Homo sapiens: one gene and its partners. The protein of the gene in region 2 purifies or fractionates together with the protein of the main gene of each other region. This does not show direct contact. Each region holds a gene or a part of one and is shown on either strand. Other genes may lie near its edges.

What was found.
Region 1: the proteins of ZMAT4 (region 2) and HEPHL1 purify together in Homo sapiens (affinity purification with mass spectrometry; 2 studies listed by BioGRID and IntAct, with this or other methods). This does not show direct contact.
Region 3: the proteins of ZMAT4 (region 2) and VSIG8 purify together in Homo sapiens (affinity purification with mass spectrometry; 2 studies listed by BioGRID and IntAct, with this or other methods). This does not show direct contact.
Region 4: the proteins of ZMAT4 (region 2) and TRIM29 purify together in Homo sapiens (affinity purification with mass spectrometry; 2 studies listed by BioGRID and IntAct, with this or other methods). This does not show direct contact.

The regions. Positions count from the first base shown.
Region 1 is NC_000011.10:94,023,943-94,031,386, reverse strand, and holds part of HEPHL1 (ferroxidase HEPHL1 precursor), read right to left. Parts: intron 1-7,444. UniProt on the Homo sapiens protein: Is a copper-binding glycoprotein with ferroxidase activity. It oxidizes Fe(2+) to Fe(3+) without releasing radical oxygen species. May be involved in the regulation of intracellular iron content.
Region 2 is NC_000008.11:40,670,612-40,678,055, forward strand, and holds part of ZMAT4 (zinc finger matrin-type protein 4), read right to left. Parts: intron 4,321-7,444; coding exon 4,093-4,320; intron 1-4,092.
Region 3 is NC_000001.11:159,853,727-159,860,012, reverse strand, and holds the end of VSIG8 (V-set and immunoglobulin domain-containing protein 8 precursor), read left to right. Parts: intron 1-1,100; coding exon 1,101-1,279; intron 1,280-1,721; coding exon 1,722-1,923; intron 1,924-2,046; coding exon 2,047-2,268; intron 2,269-3,369; coding exon 3,370-3,489; intron 3,490-3,852; exon of another isoform or gene 3,853-3,931; coding exon 3,932-4,130; exon of another isoform or gene 4,131-4,986; coding exon 4,987-5,260; 3' UTR 5,261-5,697; downstream 5,698-6,286.
Region 4 is NC_000011.10:120,110,644-120,114,415, reverse strand, and holds the end of TRIM29 (tripartite motif-containing protein 29), read left to right. Parts: intron 1-1,939; coding exon 1,940-2,002; 3' UTR 2,003-3,130; downstream 3,131-3,772.

The DNA of each region.
Region 1 (7,444 bases), on a different chromosome or scaffold from region 2:
AAAGTATTATCCCATTTGTGTGTGTGTGTGTGTGTGTGTGTGTGTGTGTGTGTGTAACAATGCACATTTACCCATATGCAAAGAATACATCTGGAAAGTGACCAGGGAAACAAAGTGTAGCCTCCAGACTATGAGACTGAAGCCACAGGTGGGAGGGAGGACGGAGGAGAAGTTTACTTTCACTCATCCTCTTTTATACTGTTGTAGGGGGAGGGGCGGTTACTCTGTACCTACAAATTCAATACTAAAAACAAGCTCACGTTTTATTGAAAAAAAAAGAAGACCCATGCTGTTTGGCCTCCAAGGGGCCAAAATTCTCTTGCATGCCTTCTATTTCTAAAAACAAAGCTGCCACAACAAAGGGTGTTGTTGGATTGAGTTCTGCTCTGCAAGGGGATTGGCCTCTGGAGCAGAGAGCATGGCATCTGCTCACTATCCCTGCTCAACCTCTGGCTTGCCAACTCTCCTCTCAGGCATTGAGGCTGAAGTCTTGGGACTGTGTATGAACATTCTGGGTCTCTTGTATCCAAGCATCCACTAAGCCTGCATGTGTCTACCCAGGAGCAAGAGTTAGCCCTCTCCCACTCTATAAGGCAAAGACTTACATTTCCCTGTGCAAGAGAATGGGATATAAAAGTTGGGATGCCTGACCCCTGGACCTTTATAATAGAGGCTGTTACATTTCTCAGACTTGCTTGCAACTTGGAATAGTCATGTGACATAATTCTAGCCAATCAGATGTAAGCAGAAGTCACTCAATGATACTTCTCCAGGTGTAGCTGGAAGACACCATTTTTCTCCTCTTCTCTTCCCTTTATTCATGCCTGAAATGTAGACATGATGACTGGAGCTCCAGCAGCCATCTTGAGATAACGAGGAAGAGGGTCACACCCTAGGAATGGTCAAGTGAGAGCCAAAAGGAACCTGGGACCCAGATGATTGCCAACCTCTGGCTCTCTTTTATGTAAGCAATAATAATAAATCTTTAATCGATTTAAACCACTTCTGTTTTTCAGGATTCTGTTAAAGAGTAGCTGAATACAACTCCTGATTGAACAGGCTGTGCAAAAGGAGAAGGAAGAGGAAGAGGCAGAGGAAGAACTGAGTCATCCCCAAGCTTGCTAATAAGCCTCAGAGTTGCCCAGTTTTATAGCTGACAATGGGTCACCCAGTAAGGTGGCACAGCAAGGATTAGATTCAGAATCCCTGGTATGCTCTCTGGGTTCAGCCTGATGGGTAAAAACTATAATACAAAACTATTATTCATAGGACCTTATCATTCCAACAGGCCCTATAGGGAAGGATGGACATTGGACTCTACTTCTCTACCCTGTTCTCCCACTGCACACATGAAGACACAAAAGTATACACACATGCAGATGCATGTGGAGCACACATGCTCACATCTTCACATATGTACTCCTGCTTTTAATCTGCTAAGAGGTCCTGACCCCACCTCTGCCCAAGACCTTTCTCCATCACCTCCACAAGACCAGGTCTTACCATGAGTTGTCTGGCAAAGGCACTAAATAAGAGGCAAAATAAGTATCAGGAGGGGCAGTGAAGTGTTTGCTGAGTCCCTGTAGGGACTGGAGCACTTATGGTATGCTTCATATTTTGGCACTGAGTTATACATTGACTGTTTTTCATATTCCTGGACACATATCAGTCTTATCACCTATACAGCCAATAGTCACCCCAAGGGGGGATTGGGTTTTCTAAAGCAGTGGTTCCCAAATGTCCACCCATGTACCACTTGCATCAGAATCATTTGGAACATTTGCCAAATTTTTATTCTCAGGCCCCACTTCAGGGCAATGGAATCAGACTTTCTACTGGCAAGACCATGGTATCTGTATTTTTTCCTAAGATCACCAAATGATTCCTGTAGTAGAGCTTTTTAGGGCTTGCGTATTCTAATTTTTCTTTCCTCCTAACCAAAGAAGACCACAGTGATTCTGCTTTTGCAAGTTAGATGGGCCATAGTGTTCTGGCAAATTGGCTGTGAGTGGAAATGCCACGTGTCACTTCTGGGTGGGGGCATTTAATTATTATTGCAAGACCCTCTCTTCCTCTGCTGCAGGAGGAGCCTCCTGCTCAGACAGTGAAGAGAACCCATAGCTTCCTCCTTGTCCCAGGACTTCTTCCCCTGCACTGACTCCACATCAAGAGTAGGACAGGGTTGACCCATGAAGGTGCCCTAGGAAGATACTTCACACAAAACAAAAACTATAGTAACTATTTGATAAAAATTTGTTGAGGCTGGGTGTGGTGGCTCATGCCTAATCCCAGCATTTTGGGAGGCCAAGGTGGGAGGATCACTTGAGGCTAGGAGTTTAAGACTAGCCTGGGCAATACAGTGAGATCCTATACTTTTTTAACTAATAGGAAAAAAAGCTTGAAAGTAAAAAAAGAAGTGGGAAGGGATAGAAATAAGAGAAAGTAGTTTGTTTTAGTGTCTACACAGCAAACCACCCATTGAGAACATATTATGCATTTGTAATAGTAGAACAGAAACTCCAGCTCCTTTGAGTTCTATAAAATGCAAATTTGCCCAAGAAACAAAGTAAGGAAGTAACTTCAAGGGAGCCATCCCCATGAAGCAACCTCCAATTTAAATGGAGTATATTTGTTAGAATGTTGCATTGGTGAGCCATCTGTTGTTTATCACGTAGCCATGGCGAGGGGCTGAGCAATCACTATTCCTCAAGAACATTTTCAATCTGCATTCTAACATCTTGACTCAAGCTAAGGAGGTGTCTACTTCCTGCTGCAAAAGAATCCAGTGGGGCCAGGAAGGTTAACATTAACAACTGCCTTAAAGACAAGATGGGGACTTGGAACATTACATTGCCAGTGCCTGGGGCCAATCCTGTGGATGGAGATATCTTCCAAAAGCAGAGGAGATTAATCATTATCAGAACAAACCTGCCCTTGGGAATCCCCTACACAGTACAGAGTTGGACTTCCAGGTTAGATTCTCAGGAGTTCGTAGCTTGCAGGGATATAAACCACCCAGCAATCCCATGACCTCTGCATCTTTTAGAGGGATGTTTTCTGATAGCTTCCTTGGAGCAATTGCTGATCATCTACTATGTCTGGGACATAAAACTAGAAACTGGGGCCAAGATGTATTAATCTCAGTCCCTGCATGCAAGAGTTTTACCATCTAGTTGGGAAGCAAAACATGCATTTGACAGTAAACACAGTTTTACAATGTTAACTGCCAACTCTACTGTCCAGAGCCCACATGTCTGTGTAGAGGGCAGGGAAATATAAGATGAAGATAAACTGCAAAATAATGTTAGCAGAGAGTGTGGTCAGATCCAACATGTGAGATCATAAGAGTCACAATAAGGACAAGAAATATTGTTTGAGCTTGAGAAGGAACGTTCTTCACCAAGGAGAAAAAAAGATGAGATTGAGACAAATGTCACTTGGAAAAAGGAAGGGTGGAGACGGAGATTGCACATTCAGTTTGGTGAAGCTGCACCCTCCCTATTAGATTAATAATTTTTAATACCATCTGGATGTGCTTCTATATACATTCTTTCACTCTGGGTCCCTGGCACCACCTATGTCTTGGGTCCTTCCTTTTCACTCTTCATTTCCACAGAAGCCCTTCATATACAAGGTGTGTTCAAAACAAATGGCATGATGAGGGGGAATGAAAATGAGCTTGAATCCCAACTCTCTCACTTGCTGGTTGTGAAATGGGGAAGAGACTTAACCTCTCTGAACCAGTTTCCTCTGCTGTAAAGCAGTGACCATGGTAGAGCTATCATAAGGATTCAATGAGAAGAGGTGTAGAGCCACACACACAGCAACTGGGAGAGTGGTGCTGAATCAATGACAGTTATGATTATTTCTGGTAAAGCGTAAAGCTTTGTTAGAAAAGAGGAAAATGTGACCAGCCAAGGTCTTTCCCCCAGGGCTCCTGCTCTCCAAAGAACCCCGTGAGACGGCAGAGCTACCACGAGAGCTGATCAAGTGCTCTCAAGTGGCAGGCACTGTGTCTGAGTATGTGCAGATCCTAAGTCCCAAAGATAACTCCGCAGTCCTCATCCACAGAAACTTATTGGAAAAATGGGTCTTTGCAGATGTGATTAAGTTAAGGATCTTGAGATGGGGAGATCATCCTGGATTAGCTGGGTGGGCCCTAAACACCATCAAAAGCATCCTTATAAGTAAGAGGCAAAGATAGGCTAGACACACAGAGAGAAGACGACGATATGAAAATGGAGGCAGAGATCAGAGTGATGCAGCCACAGCCAAGGAATGCTGGCAGATACCAGAACCTGGAAGAGTCAAGGAATGGCCCCTCCCTTAGAACCTCCAGAGGCATTGTGGCCCTGACAACACATGCAGTTCAGACATCTGGCCTCCAAAACTGGGGGAGAATAAATTGCTGTTGTTTGAAGCCACCTAGTTTGTAACTTGTTACAGCAGCCACAGAAAACTGATACACCCTCAAAGCAAGTACTGTCACTATCCCTATTTTACTGATGAGAAAACTGAGGCAAAGAGAGATTGAATTACTTGCCCATAAAGTGGGGCAAGAATTCTAAATGTGACAGTTGATGCCAGAGCCCCATACTTTACCAGCAAACTGGACTGCCTTGGCATCTCCCTAAGACCAAGGCTGGGCTACACTTGGCTGGAGAAATCCTCCCGATGCCACCTGATCTCCCTCCCAGAGACAGAAGATTGGTCACCCCACTTCATGGTGTGCTAACCTTTTAAAGCAATGCCTGGAGCATAGTAAATACTCAGTGACACTTAGCTAACTTATTATACTGTCAATGAGTTATCTTTCAGATCCTGCTAACCAGGCCTTGGGGGTCCATCATATGGAGGTGGGAAAAGCAAGATGGGGACTAAGAGGATGCCTGTGAATCATGGAAAACAGGAGAGAACTGAGGTAGGGGAGGGGAGCAGGGACTGCCAGCTGCCTTGCAATATTCATGCTCCCCTTCTTTCTTAGTGTCAGAGGTAAATTCTATCTTTATTCAGGCAGAAAAGTACACAGCTGAAACGTTATATTTTTTCAAGTCCTCTTTGTGGCTATGAGTATCCAATGAGATTTAAGTAAAATTGGTTGGGTAGGGTTTCAATGAGAACCCTTTGAAAGGCTGATGCAGCAAAAATTGTTCTGCTTCTACCTTTTGCCTTTCTCTCTTTCTTCCTGGAATGTAGACACGATGGCTGGAGATCCAACAGCAATCTTGTGACCATGAATGTGCTTGAGGAGGGAAACCACAAAGGGTTTAAAGCACATAGGCTAAGGATGGTGGATCAGAAATACAGAAAGCCCCTGATATCTTGTTATACCATCTATCCCACCAGCCTTGGACTGCCCACTTCTGGATTCTTCTACAAATGAATACAAAATCCTAATTTGTTAAAGACATTATACTCCAGTCTCTAGTGGCAGCCAGAAACAATCACTTACTGATATAGGGTAGAACAGCAGTTCCCAGAGATTCATATGGCATCAGTCCAAACAAAATATTTTTGGTGCTGATAAGACAGAAGTTGAGATTTGAAAGTTACCATTTGTTTAGACCATGCACTTACCAGATGATATTCTTTTCTTTATTTCAAAGCTCACAAAAACCTCTGTCTCCTCCCTGCTTCCCCTCAGTTGGTCCTTCTTTCAGATAGATGTGTGAGTTCTCTCTCACACCTATCCTAGGGCCTGCTTCTTAGAATACTCAAAGCCCCTTGCCATACACTGGGCTGATGCAGTGATGTGGCTGGGTCAACTAACAGACTCTACAAAAATGGGGTTTGAGCAGTGGCTAGCCTCACTTATGTTCAAGCGCAGTTCCACCCATGAGTTAGCGTCCATGAAAACCCTGCATTTCACTGGGAAGAAAAAGGCTGAATGTGTGTTGATGGCCTAATGAGGTCTATGGTGAGAACTGTGGCTTTAAATAAGATGACCCCACCCTACTTCCATTAAGGATCAGGCTTTACCACCAAACACACACCTTAATTAAGGACTTTATGAGCCTGAGCAGGACTGGTATAAATAGATCAAAATACTGACACCATCCCCAGGCAACTCAAAGGAGCCCAGTGTCCCCATTTACTCCAAGGAGGAGGAGAAGTATATTTATCTGGAGAAAGTATTTCTAAATAGAATCTAACTCCTAAATCCTATACTTTCTAGGAAACATTAGTGATTATAGACTCAATTATATTTTTGAACCCTATAATCAAGCATAGGTACCAAGCATAAAAGTTAATTTGCACCATCTGAGGGCTATAGAGTCTCAGCAAAATGATTTCAATTCATTTTCGATCTCGTCCTTGTGCATAAGGATGTGCCTAACTTTGGTTTCCAAATGTTTTCACATTACTGAAACTTTGGCACCCACCATCTTGTTCCCCAGATTTTTGCCCATTCCCCTTATTCAAAGATAAAACAACCAGAACAACTCAGTTGATAAGGTGATTAGCTTTTACTTCAATGATTTTGAATGCCTGCCCTGTACTGGATCCTCCATAGGATATTGTCAATGACAAAGTTCCGTGCAGGGAAGGGGGATTATTGAATATACGCCAAAACTTCTTATCTATCATCAGGGTGTTTTACTGCAGTTGCAGACATGACTAATGTACATCAAGCAATTAGAGGGCAATGCAGAGGGAAGAAAATGCAGTGTCCAAGTTCATGATAAAGACCCCAAGCTCCATGAGTGGTTAGGAAGGAAACAGATCAGTACAAGCCAGGGTCATGGGGGAAAGCTTCATGTATGAAGTGAGGAATTGGAGATAATTCTTAAAGGACAGGGGAAAAAATGGAGAAAGAAAAATAAAGACTACTTCAAAAGTTGTCACATATGCCCACGATCAGTCCCAGGTCTTCTCCAACTCTAATTTCTAGGACTGAACATTTGCAAATCATCTCTCTCCTTTCTTTCACCATTGCAAAAATCTTTCTAGAACTGGCAAGTCAGGAAAGATATTTTTCATTCAGTTTCAAAATTATTTCTAATGCTTTGGCATTACACTTCTCAAGTGACTCTAGGGATTACATTTCAACTCCCTTCTTACACAAATTAAGGAAAGTGATATTCAGAGAGATTATATGACATGTTCAAGATTACACAGCAAGTTGGGCAGAGCAAGCATTAGAAGTTAGGTCTCTGGATTTCTATTTCAGGTTCTTTCCATTCATGGTGGAATTCTGAGCACCTGGCTCTCCTGGTCCTTTAAATATCAGACATTTGCCCAAGTGTGAATATCCAAAACAACAGACTGTCCTCAGAAAGGCAGCCTATTCACCCTCCAGGAGGCTGAGAGAGGGGCATGATTACATCATCCACGATGGCTCCTTCCTGCTCCTGGGGAAATGGCACAACACAGAGTACACACACTGAACTCCACTTATGTCCCAGTCACAGCATCTTCACATACACCCAGGATGGATATCTTG
Region 2 (7,444 bases):
TTCATAATGCATATATTCAACAAAGAATGTGAATCCATAATACGTGAAAGCCTTCTACCTCATCTCAAATAAAAGGCAAAAAATAAATTTTTAAAAACAGATAAATGACATAAACAGACACTTCACAAAGGAAGATACACAAATGACCAATAAGCACATTTAAAAAGTACTTGACGGCAGGGTGTGGTGGCTCACACCTGTAATCCCAGCACTTTGGGAGGCCAAGGTGGGCAGATCATGAGGTCAAGAGATCAAGACCATCCTGACCAACATGGTGAAACCCCGTCTCTACTAAAAATACGAAAATTAGCTGGGCGTGGTGGCACTGCACCTGTAGTCTCAGCTACTTGGGAGGCTGAGGCAGGAGAATCTCTTGAACCTGGGAGGCAGAGGTTGCAGTGAGCTGAGATCATGCCACTGCACTCCAGCCTGGCAACAGAGCAAGACTCCATCTCAAAAAAAAAAAAAAAAGTACTTGACATCATTAGTCAATATGGAAATATGAATTAAAGGCATCATGAAATACCCTCCTATATGCACTAAAATGGCTAAAATTTAAAAGACTGACATGAGCAGATGTTGGTGAGGCTATGGAATTTTTATATGTTGGCTTTTTGAAGTGCAAAGTAACGCAACTATTTTAGATTTTGGCAGTTTCTTCTATAGTTAAAAATACATGCAACTTATGACCCAGCAATCCTATGCCTATTTACCAAGAGAAGTAAAACATATGTTGACCAAAAAAAAGTCTTGTGCCGTAATGTTCATGAAAGCTTTATCTAAAATAGCACCAAAATAATCCAAAGTTCATCAATGAATAGAGTGGATAGACAAACTGTGGTATTTTTGTGTATAGAATACTACTCAGTAATAAAAAAGGTACTACTTTGCTTTATATGCTATAAATGGATAAATTTCATAAACAATGTGTGATCCACAATAAGCCAGACACACAAGAAATACATATTTTATGATTCCACTTATATGGAGTTTTAGAACAAGCAAAACTAATCTATGATGAAAAAATGAGAAAAGTGGTTCTCTGGAATGGAGGGTTGGAGTTGACATGGGAATTTTCCCATGATGGAAAAGTTACGTATCTTAATAGGGCTGTGGGTTACACAGGTGTTTGCACTGTCAAAACTCATAGAACTGTAACATGTAATATCTCTGCATTTCACTATACATATAATATGCATCATTTTAAAAAATTAAAACAAAATTAGAAATAGTTTCTTATAAAAAATATTAAATCAGAATCCTTCTAGAAATGAAAATGATTGCCATGTTAAGAATGTAAGATTTCAGGTGATTTTGTTTTAGGGCATTCTCTGTTCATTCATTCATTCATTCAGAAACTATTGAGTAACTATTATGTGTCTGCCACTACTCTAGGTGTTTTGAACATATAAATGAGCAAACCAGACATAAATGCCTGCTTTTAAGATGCTAATAATCTATAAAGTAAGTAGAGAGAAAGAAAATACAAAAAAAAGTAAGTAAACAAGACAGTGTTTAAAAATGTGAGAAGTGCTATGAGAGAAAGAGAAAAAGCCTACCATCCTATTATATTGCTATATCGTGCTTCAGCTGCCTGATACCATTTTATTAAAGTCATGGATATGCCTATATTTATGGATTAGCATTTTTGCCTTTATTAATTGATTGATCATACATTAGAAGCATTCCAGGAATAGAGGGGTGTGTGTGTGGCCTGTGTGTGTGTGTTTCAAAGTGCTGGGTTACCATAGTTGCTTTATTCTTAAGCTTTTGCAATATTTAATGCTTGAATAAATATCTATCAGGATATCACCTGGAGCGTGTGGAAAGTTTGGTTTCAAGGACATTGTGCTCAATGCTAATCGCATTCCATGGGCTACTGAGTCACAGTCACATTGAGTTATCGAGTCAAAGCAGCCTTTTTGTCTTCTGTATGAAAGACAAGCTGCTCAAATGTTACAGAATTCAGACACCAAAGTCATTAAGATGTAGTTGTACATAAAAGATACAGCACTGATAATTCAAAATAGACAGGAAGAATGTGCTGTAGGAATAATTTTTCTTCAAGTCATAATAACTGGCACCAAACATAAAGTCCTATTTTTCTCCTTCACTGCCCAGCTGGGAAGGAGTCACTGAGACAACTTGTTATCTGCCAGTAACACAGGCATTGCAGTTAGGCCTTCAGCTATGGAGAGATCCTGCCTATTTTCTTTAACAAGACATAGACTGAAAACATATGAAATCCTCCATCAAAAAGCAGTAGTACCATTGACTCAAAAGCTTCTGCAATGAGCTTATCCAACATACTGAAATAGGAAGCACCAAGTTGCTTTTCTGTAGCTAGAACACATACACATAAATAAAGTGTTATTAATGTTTGCTCTTTTTTTGTTGTTTTTAATCAGGTCTTTTGGAAAAAATCAATCTCGAATCAAGCTCTATATACTTAGCCATGGATCTCCAACTTTAAATCTATGCTGCAGTATAAGATTCTTCCATGATGACTTCTTAGCTGTCTCTAGCTTGTTTCCTGACCTTTGCCCATGCGTATGTGATTCTGCTCACATGGAATGCCTTCTCACCTTCTAAAATGCCACCCACTTTTCTAGTTCCAAATCAAGTATATTCCCTTGGTGAGATCTTCTGCAACCAACATATTAAGAAGTGACCTGTCCCTCCTCTCAACTCATTGTAGCATGACCTTTTATATTACTTATTTTGTCTAGAAATGTTCCAAGTCATTTTCTGTTATAATTATCCCCCTTACAGGTTCACAGCCAGATTACGGTAATTAGAATTGTAGGCTCTGTATGCAGAACCCTGTTTAAACTGAGGTTGCCGTCTCCAAATTGATTTGCAAATGTTGTTATCTATAGCTTGCAGCCATTATGAATGACCTGCCCACAAAAGCTCATCAAACTTACACCAAATCTGAAGTATAGTATCAATAGCACCCCTTGCAGAATTATTTTTATTTTTCTGAGAAAAATGCATTTTCTCAGAAAATATAATATGCAATTTTGCTGTACTTCTATGCTGCCAACATCAAGCTGATCAAAAGTATGTAGGTGATCAAAAATGCTTAAATGGTTGCTGGTGATAAAATATTCTATTTAGTCCCACAAATTGGTTGATGGCTTCCTAAGGAATCCACAGAAGTAATCCTCACGCTATGTTTTCCAAATTCAGCAGCTTCTGTGAAACCTCACAGGAACTTCAAATGATACATGGTTTCTAGCTGTCAAGAAAACCCTGTCTGGGGCAGGGGCATGGTGCGGAGGAGACAGGTGTTGACTACATAGTGCCACACAGCACTGTCTTGCCGTGATTTCCCGGAGATTTTATTGAAGGGGCTTGGGCTTGCTTCAAGTCATTAAATTGAGTCAATTTGTTGCTTTGTTTTGGCTAAATTTATAAAAGCACAAAAGTTTAAGGTAAGATAATACTATTTGGCCTTTTTATCATCTTTTTTTTTTTTTTTTTTTTTTTTAAATTTTTGAGACAGAGTCTCACTCTGTTGCCCAGGCTGGAGTGCAATGGCAAAATCTCGGCTCACTGCAATTTCTGCCTCCTGGGTTCAAGCGATTCTCCTGCCTCAGCCTCCCAAGTAGCTGGGATTATAGGTGCGCACTGCCACACCTGGTTAATTTTTGTATTTTAATACAGACGGGGTTTCACCATATTGGCCAGGCCGGTGTTGAACTCCTGACCTCAGGCAATCTGCCCACCTCAGCCTCCCATTCAGCATCTTTTTTTTCTTTTTTAAACACTGCTACTCTACAAAAGCATTTGGTAAAGAAGGCAGTTAAAGATAAAGCAGAAGGAAAACAATCTGGTTCATGAATGTGCCTTTGGTCTGAAAAGCAGTCAATAAAAATATGAAAATAAACACTTTGAAACAAAGGAGATTATAAAAATTAAACTAAAGCAAGCCTTCTGCTCATTTCCTTTCTTGTCCATTTCTTTTGGGTGAGCCTCACTTTTTCCTTAATAATTAAAGCAAGAAGAAGAATCATTCCGATTTGTGAAAGCCGCATCTTTTCTCTGAAAGCCCAGTTTTGTGGCAGAAGTGAGAAGAGCTGCCCTTACCTCTCAGTTCCCCCATATCCAGGGTTGTCCCCAGTTGTTCTAACAAAGCAACTCTTGCCGCATTCTTTTTGTGTTTCTTGCCATCATAATGTTGCTGGGCCATCAGAGGGTTATTAAACCAGGCTGCACAGAGCCCACAGTATCTGTCTGAATCTCTTCTTTGATAGGGAGATGCGACCACCGGAGCAGTGTCCATCCGTGGGGGCTTAAGTGGGCTCAGGGGTGTTGCTGTGAAAGGAAACAACCAGAGAACCACAGCCACGTTAGTCCAACACTGAGTCCACTCTTCCTCAATACCCGAAGACCAAAAGTCTCCTGTTCACTCTAGAGCTTAAACATCCCCAAGAGTTCATTGACAGCAGGAAAATTAGCCCTGCCAGCTTTCATTTTTGAGTTGGGACACAAATAAAAATTCTTAATGTATTGAGATCAGAGTTTGCATGTCGTTATACCAAAATCTGATAATTCAAGAGACCATCCCTTAGGGGAATAATAAGATTTTTAAAAATAAATTCTCAGTTATTCCCACTGTGGCTCTCAGGAGCTATGGACAGTAGCTCTAAGTATTTGGCTGCCTGGAGTAGCTTTGAAAACACGGTTATTGAAGGCCTTTCCCACTCACTTTTAAAATGCATTCTGCTCTAACATTGGCATTTAGAGAAAAAAAATGTAGTAAAATACAGGGGACAAGCTCAATGAGCCAGGTAAAACTTGAGCAATAACTTAATTTTTCTAGCATCACTAATAATGCAATAAGCCTATTGTAATTGCCTTCAATTATTTTTGTGTGTGTATAACACTAAAAATAAATATTGGATAAAATGCAACTAAATAAATAAATTCTTAGAGGTAAGGGAGTGATCTATCAGTCAAAATAAAGCTAATACTTGAAGTAAACATTGGACAGTCATGACTTAAAAGATTCCGAATGAATGAATTGGACGTTTGTGTGCTATAAATGTAATTAACCAATAAATAAAGGATTTGGCTAAGTGGTAGAAACTGATCTTTTGGTGACATGGGTTGCATTAATTGAGGAAGTCATGCTAATTTTATTGTCAGCTGCTTCAGTTTATTGTAATAGGCTGTTTTCAACCTCTACCTGCTCACGTTGATGCTGAAATAACAATGTTTTTTTAAAAATCAAAAGAAAAATACTATAGATCAGGTGTACTTATCTAAACAGAATAGACATGTATCACTATTTTGAGATTGCATTGTTCCACCTATTAAATTAACACATTTTACTGTGAGCTTAGGATTATTTCTGGTCCAGAAAACAAACAAACAAAAAAGAGCCTAACTTGAAGGAGCTTACTAATGGAAAGTAAAAATAACTTTTCTATGTATTACAACATACAAGTTGCTTCCATCCTTACAAGGACTATGACTTGGCCTTTTATCCCATTTCTCAGATGAGAGATTGATTTCAGAAATGCCAGTGGCTTACTGAAGGTGAGATATCTAGTGATGGGAAAAACAGGACTAAAATGAAATCTGGAATTCCCAAAGCCAATGTTCCCTTCAATACTTTCCCAAGGATCCTTTTCATACTTCTTAATAAGCTAAGGGACTTTTTTTCTAGATCCATCATCTTTCTATTTCATATAGGATTTCATTAAATTTTGGAAAAAATATTCCGATCCAAATATTTTGGAGAAGAAATCAGTATGTAAATTCTCACATGGGCCATTAGTCCTAAAGCAGTATAGCAGCATCCTGTGTGTGTTCTTGGTCTCTGAGATGTAGGATGCAGCTGGCAAAACCACGAGCATTAGGGTTGTCGTTCCAAGGAAAAGCTGAGGTCCGAGACCTCAATAACAAGTTAAGGAACCAATTAACCAACACCCCAAGCTTTCAGGTAACTTTTAGGTGGACTTTTTTTTTGATTAAATAACTTATATAGAAACAAATACTTGTTAAGTGACATTTTAATTCAAGTAATGCCTGTATCATAACAGTATTTCTAAGAAGCTCTTTTTTCTTTATCCAGAGATTTCATTATATCGAGAAGTTTTAGCTAGTTTAGATTAAACTTAATGGTGTTATTTTTACAGGGACTCACAAACAGTACGCCCCTTAAAAGACTCATTGTGGGATTTGGTCATGTTATCACCATGTAGAAATAAAGCTCAAATGTGGGCCATTCCAGCAGCCACCCAGTATCATTCTGCTATGACTTAGAAATAAAAGCTACAAATATGCAGTTGACCTGGATGTGAAAAGATCTCTATCCACTTTTCTGAAGGTAATTGAATCTCACTTTCAAAGCTTCCCAAATCCTTATCAATTTCTGAGGATTTATAATTAGCTATTGTTTTTGATGGCAATGGAAAACATATCAAATGTCTACAATATGAATAAATGTTGACTCTTGAAGCATAATTTATTTTTCTTTAAAGTAAGCCCTATAAAACATTTTAGTCGATTTTATCAACTGATACCTTCTACACCATATCCTGGTAGGAGTGAGGCACAATAGAATATTCATCAAATAAGATAATCTTATCTTGCACATAAGAAAGTAATTTGATGTAGCTTCTCCCTCTGAATAATTCCACTATCTTGTGTATAGTCTGAAAGTTTAAAGGATTTTTTTTTTTTTTTTGCTTCTGTTGTAACTGTCTTCACTCATTTCAACCCAGCTTATATTCCTTTAGTGCCTATAAAAGCAGGCAAAGGCAGTAGCATAAAAACAGCCTTGAATCAAAGACAGAACTCTGGTTGGGTGGGACTCCACTATCAGTGAGCTGTGTGACCTTTGGCAAATTTCTAACGTCCCTGGTTTCCTCAAGGTAAAAATTCAGACACACCATCTCTTTTAAAATTAACATACTTTGCAGCTAACCCATAGGGTGTGGACAGAACAAATTGTGGAAGCTCTGTCCCTTCTACAGCTTTGATTCAATACCAAATATAGAAATTATGTGGGAGGAGAGCAGTTTCCAGGTTTTAATGATAAATCTGTGTGTGTACATGAACCCTAACACTTACATGCTTTGGCAGAGTGTATTATTCCAATAAAATGAATGAAGAATGGGGCAAAGATTATCTTTTGGTTTAAAAACATGCTTTAAAAAACACTTTAGTTGACATGTAGTTAATTTCTATTTTGATTTCATAGTTTGTTTTTATTCTAATTGCAAAAAATATTAACTAAATATTTACTTTACCTGCCCTTTATATAGATTCAACCAAAAGTCAATTAATCGAAACCAGTAATTTCAACATTAAACTCACCAGGCTTTAAAAGTTTCTGTGTCCAGACTGTGCCCCAGATCAATTGTATCAAAAACTCTGGGGGTGGGAAGCAAGCATCAGGATGTTTTTAAAACCTCCCTCCTCCCACAGC
Region 3 (6,286 bases), on a different chromosome or scaffold from region 2:
GGGCAGAGTGTCCAGGGTGGGGCCCTGGCTACACCCCCCGGTCTTATCCCTCTCTAGGTCCAACCGGTTGGGGATAGGCCTGCCTGGGGCTTCAGGGTAGGGAGGGACAAGAGCTCAGTCCTGAGCTCCTGGGTCCTGGGATCCTGGCTCCTCACCCAGGATTGCCTGCCACTGACTCAGTGGCAGGAGGGGCCTCACTGGAAGCCAGCTTGTGGGGGCAGCTGCATGCGAGCCACACAATCACATAAGAGGAAGCACACACAGTACGCAATGCTGTGTAGTCAAGAAAGACTCACAATGTCCTACAGATACCTGTGGCCATAGTCCCAGGCACACACCATCACTCACTATCACACACGAACACAGCCAGGCTCCTGGTCACAGCTGTCCACTGTCATGCACAAGCACACACTGTCACTTTTAAGCACTTACATAGCTCACATGGTCACACATCACTATACAAAACCACACAGAGGCATACAGCCACAGACTCACACTGTCATACACAGACACACATAGACACACTTAGTCTTTGGCTTCTCAGGCTGGAGAGGAGTCCCAGAAGCCATTGTAACCACCCCGCTGCCTCTGGACAGGAGGACTTCACTCAGCCCAGACAGAGCCCACATAGGTGACATTTAATCAGCCAGGCTCTTCTATCAGAGCATTTAACAACTCTGTGTGTACCACATGCCTTCACACACACAAACACATCCACACTATCATATAAATATATAAGCAGACACGCTACGTGGTCATGTACATGAATATCCTCACAGTACACATAAGCAGCCACAAATACTCATAAGCATACAATGTACATACGTGTACATATTCATACATGCATACACATAATCATATATACATACAAGCATACATAACAGCTACATATATAACAGCTATATGTATAGCTGTTATATGCCTGTGACAATTCATGCACACACACATACACACCCACTACGAGCAGCCCTCCTTTTTATGAAAGCACTGCTGACCTCTGGGTGCCGTGGACAGAGAATATGAAGGGAAGGGCTGACACTGACTCCTCCTGAAGCCCTGCTTCTGCTCCTACCACCCCATCTTCTCTGCCCTCCCCCTAGCACTGCTGTCTGCTGTGCGGATCAACGGGGATGGACAGGAGGTCCTGTACCTGGCAGAAGGTGATAATGTGAGGCTGGGCTGCCCCTACGTCCTGGACCCTGAGGACTATGGTCCCAATGGGCTGGACATCGAGTGGATGCAGGTCAACTCAGACCCCGCCCACCACCGAGAGAACGTGGTGAGTGCTGGGCACAGGGGTCTCCTTCCTCTAGGCTTCATGATGTCTACCTGTTGGACAGCCAACATCCCAAAGGGAGAAGACTGACCTTGAACCTCCCCCAAGGCCTTTCAGGGAATGAGGCAATGGGGATGAGAGCTCTGCAATTGTGAATTAAGCTAGCCAGTCAGTCTACCTCCTCCCATCCCATTCTAAAAGGAAGATAAGTTGTAGTCTTTGCCTTCAAAAAGTTCCCAGTCTGACCATATATCTTTCCAAGTGCTTGATCTCACCTGATCTCACCAGTTCTGTAAGAGGTCAGTGGCTCAGGCATCATTATTCTCATTTTTTCAGCTGAGAAAAGAGTCTCAGAGAAGTTCAGTGAATTGCCCAAAGCAGCCAATCCACATGGCCCTTCTTGGCTCTGCCTGTTTCACCACCTGTTTTCCTCTCCTCTTCACAGTTCCTTAGTTACCAGGACAAGAGGATCAACCATGGCAGCCTTCCCCATCTGCAGCAGAGGGTCCGCTTTGCAGCCTCAGACCCAAGCCAGTACGATGCCTCCATCAACCTCATGAACCTGCAGGTATCTGATACAGCCACTTATGAGTGCCGGGTGAAGAAGACCACCATGGCCACCCGGAAGGTCATTGTCACTGTCCAAGGTATGGCCAGACTCCTCTAAGCTCCTCTCCCCCTGGCTTAAGAGCCAAGGGCAGCTTGGCCACTTTGAGCCTGGCTCTGTCTCTTGGCTGGGCCCTGGCTTACAATTGTCTGCCTCCTTGCAGCACGACCTGCAGTGCCCATGTGCTGGACAGAGGGCCACATGACATATGGCAACGATGTGGTGCTGAAGTGCTATGCCAGTGGGGGCTCCCAGCCCCTCTCCTACAAGTGGGCCAAGATCAGTGGGCACCATTACCCCTATCGAGCTGGGTCTTACACCTCCCAGCACAGCTACCACTCAGAGCTGTCCTACCAGGAGTCCTTCCACAGCTCCATAAACCAAGGTGAGAGGGCCCTGGATGAGGGCAGTCGGGGGTGAGTGGAAGATCAGGGACTCTGGGACCTGTTGGGGTTTCCTTGGGTTATCAGTGCCATCAAATCAAACCTGGAATCCCTGTGGGAGACCCTCCCTCTGGGCCTGCCCCAGCAGCTGCTATTTTTTTTTTTTTTTTTGAGACAGAGTTTCGCTCTTGTTGCCCAAGCTGGAGGGCAATGGCATGATCTCGGCTCACTGCAACCTCTGCCTCCCGGGTTCAAGCGATTCTCCTGCCTCTGCCTCCCGAGTAGCTGGGATTACAGGCATGCACCACCGCACCTGGCTAATTTTTTGTATTTTTAGTAGAAACGGGGTTTTACCATGTTAGCCAGGCTGGTCTCAAACTCCTGACCTCAGGCGATCCGCCCGCCTTGGCCTCCCAAAGCGCTAGGATTACAGGCGTGAGCCACCGTGCCTGGCCCAGCAGCTGCTATTGAGAGCAGATGATAAGGCAAATGTGGAGAGTCAGTCAAAAGTACTATGGCGAATTTGGAGGGAGCCTGGTCTCAGACAGAGCTGGGCTTGAATCCTGGCTGGGACACTGACTGGCTCCAAGTTTAAGGCAAGTGGCTTACCCTCCCTGTGCCTTAATTTCTTCATATATGGAAAGGGAATACTAACATATACCTTTCATGGGCATGCAAGGATTAAATGGGGGAGGTGTGTAAAGCTCCTAGTACATAGAGAAGCTGAAAATATTCAGTCAAACAAAGAATAATAGAGCTAGGAGGGACCTTAGAGTTCCTCTTCCCCTGGCTTCTCCTGTCCTCACTGTACAAAGGAGGAGACCAAGGCTCAGAGAGCGTACATATTTCCCTAAGGTCAGAGTGAATTAATGGTGTCCCTGTCTTGCTGCTGGGAGAGAGGTCCTTTCTTGCATCTCTTTCACAGCAGGGGGAAGGTGACTCACCTGGAGAGTGGAGTGTGTGTGTGTGTGTGTGGGTGTGGGTGTACACACATGCATAAGCCTTCCCTTCTTCTAGAGTGGGTGTCCCATCCCCCACCCCACAGGGACTGAGGTTGGGGTGGGAGCTCTCAGAGACCAGGCCTCTCTCCACTTCACTTTCAGGCCTGAACAATGGGGACCTGGTGTTGAAGGATATCTCCAGAGCAGATGATGGGCTGTATCAGTGCACAGTGGCCAACAACGTGGGCTACAGTGTTTGTGTGGTGGAGGTGAAGGTCTCAGGTAGGTGCAGCAGTCTTGAGGGCTGGGTGGTTGGGAGGGTTGAACTGGAGGAGGCTGGGCTCTGGTTTGGAGCCTCAGCTGCTTCTGCCTTTCCACTGCCATCCATTTGCCAGTGGGGGCTCCCAGCCCCTTTCCTACAAGTGGGCCAAGATCAGTGGGTACGATCTTGACCCTATTGAGCTGGGTCAAGCTCGCCCAGCACAGCTTCCACTCTGAGCTCTAGAGCCCAGAGCAGCTGGAAGCCCTGGGAGAAGCATGCTGACACGAGGGGTTAACTTGCATCTCCCCATATCTTCCCCACTGGGTGTTCCAGGGCTAAGAGACCCCCTGGGTCCCTCTCCCTCTTTCCCATTAACCCCTGACCTGGCACCTCCTGGTGCTGTTCCCTCAGGCACCTGCCAGGCTGTGAGAAAGCCTGACCTGCCTCCACTTCTCTCCACAGACTCCCGGCGTATAGGCGTGATCATCGGCATCGTCCTGGGCTCTCTGCTCGCGCTGGGCTGCCTGGCCGTAGGCATCTGGGGGCTCGTCTGCTGCTGCTGCGGGGGCTCCGGGGCTGGCGGCGCCCGCGGTGCCTTCGGCTACGGCAACGGCGGCGGGGTCGGCGGAGGGGCCTGCGGCGACTTGGCTAGTGAGATCAGGTAAAACCTGATGCATGCTGCATGCTGCTGTGCGGCAGGGAACCGGCGCCCTGCCCACCTCACTCCTGCCTGCCACCGGCCGGCTGGGCCCCCCACCCCAACCCTGCCCGCCATCGCCACGGAGTGCTGGGACTGCGGCATGTCGACCTGCCACCCAACTCATGGCTTTCCCCTCCCCCTGCCACCCCAGTCTTCACCTCTGCTCCCTGCCTTCCATTTCCCTCCTGCCTACGCACCTGTCTGTCTTGTCTAGACTGTAAGCTCCTGGAGGGCAGGGCCTATGTTTTTTCACGTTTCCCCTGTACTGCGCCGGTAAGAACTCTGACATTATTATTTAAGAAGAGCTAATAATAAGAATAGTGCTAATAACTTATATTAGAAGCAAACTAGAAATAAAAATAGAACAAGTCTAGTAGTGCTAATGATTGCAATGCCTCGGGGATGGAGGGAAAGATGGAGAAGACTGAGGGGCAGGAGGTGAGAAAGAGAGAGATTGCTCGAGCAAGGTCAGGATTAGCTAAGGAAAGAAGAAGAGGAAAAGCACCTTCTTCTGGGCCTGCGAAACATCAGAAAGGGATTGCAGGGGCCTGGAGGGGGCTGCCTGCAGGGCTCTCCAGATACGCGTGGACAAGCCCTGTCTGGAGGATGGGGATGCTGGCTCCGGGACCGCTGCAGGGTCGCCGACCCAGGAAGGGTCACAAAGGACAGTAGGTCGAGGCCGAGGGAGAGAGACGAGGGCAGGTGGAGGGAGGCGCGGGAGACAAGAGGTTGCCAAGAGCCCCCGGCTCTGCCCAGGCCGTGCCCACGCCCCGCTGCGGAGCAGCCCGCTCACCCGCCCGCCTGTTGTTTTCCACAGAGAGGACGCCGTGGCGCCCGGGTGCAAGGCCAGCGGGCGCGGCAGCCGCGTCACCCACCTCCTGGGGTACCCGACGCAGAACGTCAGCCGCTCCCTGCGCCGCAAGTACGCGCCTCCCCCCTGCGGCGGCCCCGAGGACGTGGCCCTGGCGCCCTGCACCGCCGCCGCCGCCTGCGAAGCGGGCCCCTCCCCGGTCTACGTCAAGGTCAAGAGCGCGGAGCCGGCTGACTGCGCCGAGGGGCCGGTGCAGTGCAAGAACGGCCTCTTGGTGTGAGCGCGCGCGCCGGGCCGGGCTGCGCCCCAGCCAGGAGGAGGGCGCGGGGCTCTCTGTCTGCAGCTGGGGACACGTCGGGGCTGGGGACGACCTCGCTCGCCCCAGGCTGCCAGGCGGCTGGGGGTGAAGGCATTTCCCTAAGGAAATGCGTAGGGAGGCAGAGCCTCCTCCCCAAAAGTGGGAAGGGGCGGGCGAGGGCGGAGGAAGGCGATCCTGAGCCTTCTCCGCACCCCCGGGACCGAAGGCTTGGGGGAGAGGGAGGGAGGAGGAGGCTGAGTGTCCTAGAGCGGCTGAGGCCGGAGGCCTGGTGTCCCCAGCCTAAGCAGAGGGCCCCGGGGGCCGGGTGGGTGGGGGTCTGTCTGGACGAATTGTTCTGTGTGTGAGGTCTGAGCTCTGAGGCAGCAGTGTTAGCACAATAAAGAAACATTGAGACGTGAGTCCGAAGTGGCTGTCCGCGTTCCACGGAGGTTGGGCACGGGGTGGCGAACCCTGCCCAGGGCCGGGGAGGGTTGCTTCTGTCGCTCGCCTCGACCACGCCCCCTCTCCTCCCTCCTGCTTAGATCCCTGGCAGTCAGAGCTGGAAGGGGCCATCCAGGGCAACTCCTCTGAACAACATACAAAGTGCAGATAAAAGGAAAACAAAGACAAAAAGAATTAGCTCAGAATATCTACGACCGTAAAATAAACTGAGGAACCGACAAAGTGCAATACACTTGCCATTTCTAAATATTCAAAGTTTTCACATGTCAAGATTTTCTATTGAGAATAATGTGCTCTGAAGGTCTAGGGAGTCTTTGTATGTTGCTGAAAGCTAAAAGGAAACCAGTCCTTGGAGCACAGAAGGCACAGGCATCCGGTGAGACAGAAACAAGGACATGTGAAAATAAGACTACAACCTCTTATATTAAAAAACTAAGTGCCACAGTTCTAGGGTGCTGGGTGAAGTGCAGGAAGGAGGGGGAATAATATTTATATAGCATATATTATGGAACTCGGAGAGTATGGTAAATCCCTTCACCTAGATGC
Region 4 (3,772 bases), on a different chromosome or scaffold from region 2:
GGTTTAATTGGAGAGGATCTTTAATTGCTGGGGATGGGAGCTAAGTGATCGTGTATGTAATTTGGAGCTGGACTCAGGGGCATTGCAACAGCAGGACTGCAGAAAGCAGATATGGGGAGAAAAAAGAAGGTTTCTGTTCTAGACTCAGTCCTTCCCCTCCCTACTACATACTTTTCCACCCTCTCAGAGCCTGGGGCCCTGAAGAGAAGGCTCATCAGCACTTTGAGGCCCCTGGCAGAGCAAGGTTTTGGTGTCCAGCAGGCACCCAGCACTGGGAGAGTGGAGACAGGCGCTGGGCTGCAGAGAAGCTGAGCTGGGAATCAATTTCCCTGGGGGCTGGCCCCAGCTGTCTCATTGACTTGCTGTGTGACTTTGCATGAGGAAAAATGATTCCTTTGTGCCTCAGTTTTCCCATCCATAATTAGGATGATTTTGCAGCTCTTCCACCTGCTGTATGTGCTGTGACCTCAAGCCAGGGAGGGGATGGGAGGGTGAAGGTAGCATTTTGCCCTGATGCCCACCTACCACTCCAGGCTTTTAACCAGACAATGCCATTCATTGACCTGCAACCCATATTATTGACCCAATCTTCCTCAAAGAAAGGCTTCAGCCATTTCCAAATCTGTTCACTTTGCCCTATGAATTGCTTGGGGTCCAGGCTGGCCCCTGGGGGTCAGGAGACCTGGTCCAGGCTCTGCTTTGCCAGTAAGTAGCTGTTCTTACCCCTCCCTGGGTCTCAGTTTCTTCCTTTGTTTAATAGGTGGTTTAAGCAAGGTCTGAGCATCCCTCAAGTCCTGCTGTGGACCACACAAAGGCAAGGAGCTGACCAGGAGGTGTCAGTTCCCTGAGAGACAGGGCCAAAGGCAGTGTACCCTTGAGGTGTGTGTGTGAGGGGCAAATGATGTCTCCTGTATTGGGATCTGCAGGGCATGGGAGTGGGCTCAGTCTCTGACCCAGCTCAGGGACAAATCCTCTTCCTGAGACCCCCGGGGGCTGATGGTGCTTGCGTGGGTGAGCAGCAGCTAAGCTGTGCTCTTCCACTCCATCCTGGAGGGCTGCCTCCTCAGGGCCCTGATGAAGTTATCTGGGCAGGGTGGGGCATGCTGATTTCATGAAATTACTGGGAGATACAATACATGGAGAAGGCTGGGAGAGCTGTCACTGGGCTCTCTCTCCAGAGATGCTCCCTGTACCAATGGCTGGGGGAAGAGGAACAGGACGAGAGAGGCAAAGGGCTGTGGGGAGCCTGGGACCGTGTTGGACTGGGGCAGTTCTTTACCCTCTCTGCACCCTTTCTGTAAGGGAAATTTATGCAGAGAGAGGCAAAGAAAATCCTGGAAGCCCTCACCATAAGAGAAGTGATGCCGAGAACTGGCAGCTGGGGGTGTGGGTTTTGGAGGCAGCCTGCTGGGGCTTGGATTCTGGCTCCTTGCTTACCAGCTGAGTGACCTTGGGCAAGTTGCCTAGCCTCTCTGTGCCTTGGTTTGCTCAACTATAAATTGAATATGATAATAGTAATCTATTTAATTGGGTGGTTGTAAAAATTAAATGAGTGCATCCACATACAGCCCTCGACACAGTGCTGTGAAGTTCTGTGGAGTAGAAAGTGCTATATAAATAGTAGCTGTGGTGGCGCTGGAGGAACCTCCTTGAGCTGTGGAGAGAAATTTCGACCAGTGTAATGCGGGGGCTGAGGTTCAAGCTCACCCACTAACTATGGGAATGGACTCCAATTAGGATTCCAATCTGGAGATCCTGACATTAGGGACCAGCCCCTGATCACAGGGTAGGTAAATCTTGCAGATCAGGCCAAAAAGGCCCCTAGAATTGTCGGGTCTTGGATCACTGCTGCCTCCTGAGGCAGGTTAGGGTAGGGTGGGTCTAGCTAGCAGGCTCATCTGTCGTCTGGCCTCGCTGACCACTCTTGTTTCCCCCACAGTCTCACTACCGGCCATTCTACGTCAACAAAGGCAACGGGATTGGGTCCAACGAAGCCCCATGAGCTCCTGGCGGAAGGAACGAGGCGCCACACCCCTGCTCTTCCTCCTGACCCTGCTGCTCTTGCCTTCTAAGCTACTGTGCTTGTCTGGGTGGGAGGGAGCCTGGTCCTGCACCTGCCCTCTGCAGCCCTCTGCCAGCCTCTTGGGGGCAGTTCCGGCCTCTCCGACTTCCCCACTGGCCACACTCCATTCAGACTCCTTTCCTGCCTTGTGACCTCAGATGGTCACCATCATTCCTGTGCTCAGAGGCCAACCCATCACAGGGGTGAGATAGGTTGGGGCCTGCCCTAACCCGCCAGCCTCCTCCTCTCGGGCTGGATCTGGGGGCTAGCAGTGAGTACCCGCATGGTATCAGCCTGCCTCTCCCGCCCACGCCCTGCTGTCTCCAGGCCTATAGACGTTTCTCTCCAAGGCCCTATCCCCCAATGTTGTCAGCAGATGCCTGGACAGCACAGCCACCCATCTCCCATTCACATGGCCCACCTCCTGCTTCCCAGAGGACTGGCCCTACGTGCTCTCTCTCGTCCTACCTATCAATGCCCAGCATGGCAGAACCTGCAGCCCTTGGCCACTGCAGATGGAAACCTCTCAGTGTCTTGACATCACCCTACCCAGGCGGTGGGTCTCCACCACAGCCACTTTGAGTCTGTGGTCCCTGGAGGGTGGCTTCTCCTGACTGGCAGGATGACCTTAGCCAAGATATTCCTCTGTTCCCTCTGCTGAGATAAAGAATTCCCTTAACATGATATAATCCACCCATGCAAATAGCTACTGGCCCAGCTACCATTTACCATTTGCCTACAGAATTTCATTCAGTCTACACTTTGGCATTCTCTCTGGCGATGGAGTGTGGCTGGGCTGACCGCAAAAGGTGCCTTACACACTGCCCCCACCCTCAGCCGTTGCCCCATCAGAGGCTGCCTCCTCCTTCTGATTACCCCCCATGTTGCATATCAGGGTGCTCAAGGATTGGAGAGGAGACAAAACCAGGAGCAGCACAGTGGGGACATCTCCCGTCTCAACAGCCCCAGGCCTATGGGGGCTCTGGAAGGATGGGCCAGCTTGCAGGGGTTGGGGAGGGAGACATCCAGCTTGGGCTTTCCCCTTTGGAATAAACCATTGGTCTGTCACTTCTCTTGTATTGAATGACCATTTCCCTGAGGGTCCCCAGAGGAACAGGCTGCAGTTCTTCTGAATGCACTTTTTCCCTCTGATGAAGGCACGGTCATCTTCCTGCTCTCCTCTCAGAAACGTGGCTCCTTTGAAACTCCCTTGACCTCCCTCACCCTGTCTGGGACACAGGGGGTGCAGTGCAGGAACCTGGGCCTCAGGGAGGCACGCCTTGGCTAACAATGAACACAGGGAGAATGACAGTGGGGTGTGGGCCTGGGGATATGCTCAATACCTTCTGCCATGCTCAGACCTTCTGGCCGGCCCACCCTAGAGTTCCCAGGGGGAGAAGGGCCCAGAAGTGGCTGGGAGCCAAGCACTCTGGTGCTCAGACGCAGGCTGGAGTGGAAGTCCACTGGAGGCTTCAGACCTGAGGGCCTTCTCAGTGCACAGAGGGCCTTCTGGGAAGGAGAGCTCCCCTTTGAGGCTGGCAGGAGGGTCAGGCTCCTGAAGACAGCATCATCCTGGGCTTGGGGGACGGAGGAAAGGGAAAAGGCCTTCCAGTCCCTGGAAACTCAGAGAAGCCTGGAAGGAGAGTCAGGGAAGTCTTCCTGGAAGAGGTGAGCAAGCCAGGAGGAGGCATGATGGTAGAGAGGGAAGAG